Regions from separate parts of the Homo sapiens genome. Here region 2 is linked to region 1. The links come from fine-mapping of genetic effects on gene expression. Tissue or cell type: whole blood. Region 1 holds a variant in brackets; the other region holds the start of a gene. All regions are shown on one strand. Distances are between the middles of the regions.

The links. PIP is the estimated chance that this variant, and not a neighbour inherited with it, causes the effect.
Region 2: PWP1 starts here. The variant in region 1 is fine-mapped to the expression of PWP1 in whole blood (INTERVAL, PIP above 0.99).

Annotation. Positions count from the first base shown.
Region 1 is chr12:107,708,948-107,713,188 of GRCh38, forward strand. PWP1 (PWP1 homolog, endonuclein) reads left to right here. Exons shown (of 15, transcript NM_007062.3): 12 at 1-69; 13 at 164-285; 14 at 1,458-1,563; 15 at 3,164-4,215. The coding sequence ends at 3,273. LOC124903010 (a long non-coding RNA gene) reads right to left here. Exons shown (of 2, transcript XR_007063446.1): 2 at 3,435-3,483. Among named protein-coding and RNA genes, the nearest start is that of PWP1, 25 kb to the left of the region's middle. The variant G/T (reference allele first, on the strand shown) is at 2,253.
Region 2 is chr12:107,683,525-107,687,765 of GRCh38, forward strand. It overlaps PWP1 (PWP1 homolog, endonuclein), which reads left to right and starts at 2,275. Exons shown (of 15, transcript NM_007062.3): 1 at 2,275-2,447. The coding sequence starts at 2,376. RefSeq lists enhancers at 2,084-2,343, 2,564-2,613.

The DNA.
Region 1 (4,241 bases):
TATATAATTTGGATGCACGTTCAGATAAGCCAATTTTTACACTTAATGCACACAATGATGAAATCTCTGGTGAGCAAGAGTAATGCTTCTTTCATTTTTCTTAACTTATGATGAAGTAAATCTGTATTTCAAAGCGAAAGTGTCTAAACTTATCTTCCTTTAGGTCTTGATCTTAGCAGTCAAATCAAGGGCTGTCTCGTGACTGCTTCAGCTGACAAATACGTGAAGATCTGGGACATCTTAGGAGATAGGCCAAGTCTAGTTCATTCTAGGGACATGAAAATGGTAAGAATCTCCCTGGGTATCTGTTTTTTATTTATTCTGTTTCTGACCTTGTCTTTTTCTGGAACTTGTGTTGCGTGTTTTTCTGTTGGAACTATTGCATTAACAAATATGGATGTGTTGGGGAAGTGAATTTTGAGTTTAGTCAAATTTGGTGGGATTTTATGACTTAGAACGCTTTGTGGGGAATTCAGTGACTGGTTCTTTTCCAACTCACATGATTAACAGTTGCTTGGTAAGGCTGGGGAGAGGGTTTTCTAGGACACAAGTGAAATGGCTGCTTTTTTTTTTTTTTTTTAAAACCCTGAAATCAAGACCATCCCAAGAAATCTTGAACCTCAGGGCACCGTAGCTATTAGGGTCAGTTTATGTATCTTTATCTCTTTGCATAACTAGTTCTGACTACACTGAAACAAATTACTATATAGTAGGAAAAATTTAGAAATAACCAGATTCACTCAAGAAATATTTACTGAGCACCTACTGTATGCCAACCACTGAGTTATATAAGTTAGACTGCAGACACAGTAACACTGCACAGCTGTTGAAAATTGTGTATGAATAAATATATATAAATATAATGGAAAAACAGGTTACAGAAGCAATTTTTGTAGTACCATCTCATGCTTATTTTTAAGTGCATAATTGCCTAAATGCTTACATTTAACTCTAGTAGATTATATCCCAGAACATAAACCGTGGTTACCTCCCTGAGAGATTTTCATATATTTTTCTTGTTCATATTTTCTATAACAAATATATATTACCTATTAATAAAAATGTAAAAAAGAAAACAAAGTTTAAAAATGATTTAAACTGGCATCATTGTTATTGTTTAAAAGGACAGCTAAAGTTTCTGGAAATACATGGCACATTAGGTTTGTTAGGAAATCCCTAAGAGACAGAGTGATAACGAAGATGAGTGGCCTGAGTGGTCAGAAGTTGCAGATATCATTGTGGAAGAACCAGCATGCTGCGCTTGTCTGGCTTCATATTGTAGTACTAGCCCTTCTGACTTGACTCTGAGCTACCTTTGCAGTAGGCTTGAAAGTGAGAATCATAAGTTGGTTTTGAATAACCATTTAAATCATAGATTCTTAGAGACAACAGTGAGGATCTAGATATTAGCGCTTTCTGAAGAGATTGAAATCACCATCTTCCTGTTCTCTCTCTAGGGAGTTCTCTTCTGTTCTTCATGTTGCCCTGATTTGCCATTTATTTATGCCTTTGGAGGTCAAAAAGAAGGGCTTCGGGTCTGGGATATAAGCACAGTCTCTTCAGGTAAGGATTTTTAGTTCTCTGCACACCTCCCCCTGCCCCTGTAAAAAAAAAAAAAAAAAAAAAGACAGGGTCTCACCATGTTGCCCAGGCTGGTCTCAAACTCCTGGCCTCAAGCAATCCTTGGTCCTCAGCCTTCTGTATAGCTGGGATTACAGGTGTGAGCCATCATGCTGGCCTCTCCTCTTTCTGAATGAGTTCTGTAAGGACTGACACAGAATGTGTGACTTGAATTGTTTCTCAGCATTTTGGCTAAGACCAAGTGCAGAATGTGTGTCCTGACTACATCAGGAAGATAGCAAAAGTAGTGTAGTCTTTTTAGGAAAGAGACAAGATCAGATGTAATTGGTAATGTTTGTTCATGTTCACAAATAAGTTTGTCTTCACACTTTTAAGTGTAGATCATTTAAGGCCGAGACCAGCTCGGTTGGGGAGACCCTAACCCAGTGGCGCTAGAGGAATTAAAGACACACACACAGAAATATAGAGATGTGAAGTGGGAAATCAGGGGTCTCACAGCCTTCAGAGCAGACAGCCCCGAACAGAGATTTACCCACATATTTATTAACACCAAACTAGTCTTTAGCATTGTTTCTATAGGTATTAAATTAACTAAAAGTATCCCTTATGGGAAACGAGGGATAGGCCGGATTAAAGGAATGGGTTAGGCTAGTTAACTGCAGCAGGAACAT[G/T]CCCTTAAGACACAGATCGAGATCGCTCATGCTATTGTTTGTGGCTTAAGAATGCCTTTAAGCAGTTTTCCACCTTGGGCAGGCCAGGCGTTCCTTGCCCTCATTCGTAAACCCACAACCTTCCAGCTTGGGCGTTAGGGCCATTATGAACATGTTACGGTGCTGAAGAGATTTTGTTTATGGCCAGATTTTGGGGGGCTTGTTCCCAGCAATTTAACAAATACATATCTTAAAATTGAAAGATCTTTGGGGAAAGCTGGAAAGAAATATAGCATGGTCTCAACAAACAGCCCTCTCCCCCACAGTTACCAGTGTGAATAAATCCACCGTTTGCTCAACTATAAAATTCTACAAAATCCAACTTTCCGGAAGGGGCCACTCCTCTCCCTTCAGGGGATCCTGGCTGCTTATTTATTACTTTGAGGTAGTCTGGTGCGTTCTACAAACACAGAGATAATATATATATCTCCCCACTGTATGATTCCTGCATCCTCCCTCCCATGCAAAACAAGGATCCTGAGATTTTTCTCTGGGTTATTCTGATGTGTGTGAGTCCTAAGTCCGAAAAGTTCTGTGCCGGTTATGATCAGAGAAAAGTGAAAGAAAAAAATAGGAAGCAATCAGAAGTAGAATAAGGCCAGGAGAGGGTCACTTATAAGGAATGGGACATTTGTTACCAAGGCGGATCAGATAAATCCAAGACATGGCAAAGAAAGTAAAGTACAAAAATAAATTGGACCATTTAAAAAAATAATTCACTTCATTCAGAACATTAACTTGGACTTCTGAGTTGGTTACTCACTTTACCATTTATAAAGTACTAAGTGCACAATTCTGCATTTTAGTGTCTTTTTATATTCTGACTTAATTTCCTGATCTGTTAGTTTCTTACCTGTTTATTTGTATTTTAGTAAATGAAGCATTTGGAAGACGAGAGAGGCTTGTTCTTGGGAGTGCAAGAAATTCATCTATTAGTGGCCCTTTTGGCAGCAGGAGCTCAGATACACCCATGGAGTCTTAATGAAGATCATCTAATTTCCTGCTTACCTTAACTGGGAATTTTAAAAAGTTGGCCTAAAAATGTTCCATGCGTGGCAGCAACCATGCAGAGTGACTGAAACACAATTCATTTCTGACTGACATTCCTTTCTGCAACTGCGGTGGCACCACAAATATCCGGTCTTTGTGCTTGCTCTTCAGATGGATGGTTTGTAAGGCTCTTGTTGCATTTCTTAAAAAAGAGTAATAAAAAGGATTTTTAAAAAGTAATTCCTTAAACATACCATCTGTCACAGTTAATCTAGATTTGTAAATAGGTAGTAATTTATAGAATTTTTAAAGCGTAAAATCCGGTAATATTAAAAGATAGGTAAACCTAGGCCTGGAAAGGCTGTTATTTGGCTAAAATTGCACAGGAGGCCATGAACAGAGGCAAGTGCCCCAGAGACTCCACTTTCATTCCTAACTGTTCTCAAATTAATGCTCATGATTGAGTATTCTCAGTGCAACTCGTAGAGTTTGATAAGTAAAAGTTACATGCCCCTGTTTTCCTAGCATGATATTCACTGTTATCAAAGACAAGAGGCAGACCATTCATTCATTCTCAAAACACTGAATGCCATTCTGTGCCTAGTGCTATACAAGGCATGGGAGATTCAGTGTGAATAAGTCTTTGCTCTCCACCTAACAAGGGACAGTTTTAATTATAGATTGTCTTCCTATTAAGTATGAGTTTTAGTAGGCATTAAAAATCGTAATTAGTTTGATAATATGAGACCCAACCCTAACTTGCCAGAAGAGTAATCAGTTCATGAACCATTGATATTTCCTGTATATTTCATGAATGTGACTTCAGTCATTCTAGTGTTAATACTGTGGAATGTCATTGGTGTAGCAACGTGGGTTCACCAAAACACCTTTTTATACAAAAGACAGATGTGTGAATTAAAGAGATTAAAGGATAGAGTATTCTGTTTCTTTGTTTTGATT
Region 2 (4,241 bases), 25 kb before region 1:
GACCCAGTGAGAGGTAATTGAATCATACGGGCGGCGTTTTCCTGTGCTTTTCTCATGATAATAAGTCTCATGAGATCTGATGGTTTTATTAATTAATTAATTTATTTTTATTTATTTTTATTTTTTGAGACAGAGTCTTGATCTGTTGCCCGGGCTGGAGTGCAGCAGTGCGATTTCGGCTTACTGCAACCTCCGCCTCCTGGGTTCAGGTGATTCTCCTGCCTCAGCCTCCCAAGTAGCTGAGACTACAGGTATGCACCACCATGCCCGGCTAAGTTTTATATTTTTAGTAGAGACGGGGTTTCACTACGTTGGCCAGGCTTGTCTAGAACTCCTGACCTTGTAATCCAACTGCCTCGGCCTCCCAAAGTGCTGGGATTACAGGCATGAGCCACTGCACCCAGCTGAGATCTGATAGTTTTATAAAGGGGAGTTCCCCTGCACATGCTCTCTTCTTGCCTGCTGCCATGTAAGACATGCCTTTCTTCTCTTTTGCCTTCTGCAGTGATTGTGAGGCTTCCCCAGCCAACTGAAACTGTGAGTCCATTAAACCTCTTTTTCTTTATAAATTATCATGTCTTGGGTATGTCTTTATTAGCAGTGTGAGAACAGACTACCACAGTAGCCAAACTTTATATGGTGGCTCAGGGCTCCAAACATTAGTGTTCTACTGGTGGGCAGTGGGGGAGTGGGTGGGGGGTGTGGAAGTGGAGAAGTGGGTGTGGTGGTGGGGAAGCAAAACCTGCATCCTATTTATGACTTAACCTTGGAAACATCATTTCTGTCATACTTTATTGGCCAAAGCAGACCTACAACTACCCAGATTCAAGTTGGTGGGGGCGGGGGGGGGTGCTTTGATGGAGGAATATCAAGATCACGTTGCAGACAAACATGTGTGAAGGACTCTATTGTTGCAGCCATCCTTGAAAAATATTATCTGCCATATGGTCTTTCTAAAATGGGTTAAAAGCAAAGAAACCACAGAAGAATCATCTTACAGAAACAGAGCAGGGGGAGAAGTCTTAATGGACAAATAATCTGCCTACACAAACAATGAGCAATTTACTTCTGGGAGGATCTCTCCTCAGGCAGGGAGATTGCCAAGCGCATTAGGCTGAGTAGAGTTGGTGACAGAACTCATAGTTGTATCAGCTCCTCTGTGTGTGATCTGAGTAGGAAAGTATTTGACTACTGGGGACTCTAGCTTCATCTTTAAAACAAAGTGTTGTGAGAACCAAGTAAAATACTGTATAGAAAGATAAATGTGTTGCAAAAAGGTCCCCGAATAGAGCCCACAGGTGGACACCCCCCGTTTGACAATGCCACTGGGAAAGACCATGTGTACTGCCAGTTTATCCTTGCCACTGTTTCCCCATAGCAGCCACCTTCCTGTTTCTTTTGCTTGCCTCTCTCAGAGGTAGATGCATTGAGGGTAAATGACCAGGACAGGGCCACACAGCCAAGAGATCAAAACCCAGATTTTTCTGGGATGCTAGTTTGAGATTTTCCATTCTACAAACGTCCAGCCACTCACGAGTTCTAACAGATGACTGATCTTAGCTGAGAAGCATGACATAGATACAAGGGAGTCACACTGCCCGGGTTCATATCCCAGCTGCACCGCTTACTAGCAGTGTGACCTTTGGAAGGATCGCTGTTTTCCCAGGTGTAAAACGGAAATAAGACCTCCCACAAAGGGGTAAGTAATCACGTGATACGGCACTCAAAACAGCGCCTTCAACATAAGTAAGCCCTTTGTGTTTGCCAAGACTAAATCACTACTGCATAGTTAGTATATAATTGGTGCTAAATGTTTTTTTCTCACTTTTTTTTTTGGTGCTAAATGTTTTAAGGTGAGAAAGTAACATTTAGGGATGTAATGAGATGTAATGGTGGGATCTCCGTGAAACGACAAATTCATTTTGGAGAAAGCTTTTTAAAAAACGCAAACCACAAACCTCTGCCATTTGTCAGCTTGAAGTCTACGGAACTGCAAGCAAAATAAAGATTGGTGAAACTTTGCTTCTGACTGACCCCTACAGTCCCAAATATTTTCTTGGCCTTTACAAAGCCCGCAGGCATCGTCACATGCAGTCCTGAAAAGCCTTTTCTCTATACTTCACACAGCCCAGACCAGCCCACGTGGATTCCTCGCCCGGCTGCTTCCGCTTCCATTTTGTCCCCTCCTATTTCTCATTCGGCGCCTCAGAATGACGTCTGAAATGAGCGCCGACGCTGCCCAAACAGGAGCCTGCGCATGCGCTCTGCCCTGGCAGCGGCCCTGTGCAGATCCCTGAGCGTGTGGCAGCAGTGCGGTCGTGGTCCCTCCCTATGCAGCCTGGTTTCTAGCGTGACACGCCCTTGACTTGAGGACCATGAACCGCAGCCGCCAGGTGACGTGCGTGGCCTGGGTCCGCTGCGGCGTGGCCAAAGAGACACCAGACAAGGTGAGGCCTGGTCGCTGGGAGACAAGGGGAGCAGCGTCTTTACGGCACTGGGGGTCCGCCCAGCTGGGGGAACGTGGACCCGGAACTCGGGGCGTTGGCTGGTGCGACTGGCTGGGGTGAGGGCGGCTTTGCCCGGATTGTCGCGACTAGAGCTGCAGTTCAGAAGGTCTGGTTCGCCTGAGCCTGGAGAGTCAAGGGCCGCGCCTTCTCACTGTTCCCACCCTCAAGCCCAACCCCACTCCCAAATTCGCACGCACATGGACTTAGCGGGCCGGAAAGGGGTGGGCTGCTGTTTTTGGTGGGTAATACCCCAAAAGGCTTTTTGACAACACCACTAGCTTCACTAGCACCCAAGTGCATTTTCAAGCATAACTGGGAAGAGAGCATGAAAACTCCACTTTCCACTCTTGTGCTCCGTGTCTGAAGGAGTGAGGATGAATGTGGTGTAGAAAAACTGGTGTGGAGGCTAAGATGTCGTGAGGCTGGGAGATGAATAGGGAATTTCTTGCAGTAATCCAAGTGAGATGTTGATGGTAGCAGGGAGGATGAGAGGTAAATGTCTAACACATGAAAAACCTACAAGAGTTGGAGACTGAGACTGTAGCAGAGGTGACGATTACTTAAGTAATTTCCTCATTGGATACTAAGTGCTTTCTGTAGGCCAGGCATTGTTCAGGGTCCTGGGATAGGCATGAACAAAATAGAAAAAGTCCCGCCGGGCGCGGTGGCTCACGCCTGTAATCCCAGCACTTTGGGAGGCCAAGGCGGGCGGATCACGAGGTCAGGAGATCGAGAGCATCCTGGCTAACACGGTGAAACCCCGTCTCTACTAAAAATACAAAAAATTAGCCGGGTGTGGTGGTGGATGCCTGTAGTCCCAGCTACTCGGGAGGCTGAGGCAGGAGAATGGCGTGAACCCGGGAGGCGGAGCTTGCAGTGAGCCGAGATCGCACAGCTGCACTCCAGCCTGGGCGGGCAACAGAGTGAGACTCCGTCTCAAAAAAAAAAAAAAAAAAAAAAAAAAAAAAATAGAAAAAGACCCTGCCTTTATGGAGTCGACATGTGCACATATAGTATGTCAGTGGGAGTTAAGTTCTACCAAACAGTAAAAGGGGTTGATTTGAATGTACTTGACCAAGATAATGATGATGGTGATAGGAATGTGATTGGCTTGGACATGGAGTTAACAGGAATGACGGATTGGAGTAGTCCCAGTAGTTGTAAATTCCACCTGGGCACAGACTGTTTTATTTACTGTTTCTCCAGGGTTTGGTTGATGGTAGGCACTCGGTGTTACATTTATAGAATAGGGACAGAAAATTATTTCATATAAAAATTGTTGGAGGAAACAGTTATTAAAAAGAGACATATAGCCTTTCAAATACTTGAAGACTGATTTCCAAATGAATCTACACATTGAAAATCTCACACTTGGGGAGGTTCAAAAAATACTGATGTTTATGTCCCACTCCCAAGTATTGTGTTGTAATTAGCCTGTAGTGTAGCCTAAATTATTTAAGATTCCCTAGGTGATTCTGATGTACAGATAAGTCTGGGAACCACTATTTGAAGAGTTTATAGGAAAAAGAGATTGAATTTATGAAATCCTAGAAAGGAAAACTTGGACCAAATGAGAGAAATTGGACAAGCCAGTTGCGGTGGCTCGTGCCTGTAATCCTAGTCATTCAGGAAGCTGAGGTGGGAGGATCGCATGAGCCCAGGAGTTCACAGCTGCAGGGAGCTGTGACCATGCCACATCTCTTAAAAATTAAAATTAAGGCCGGGCACGGTGGC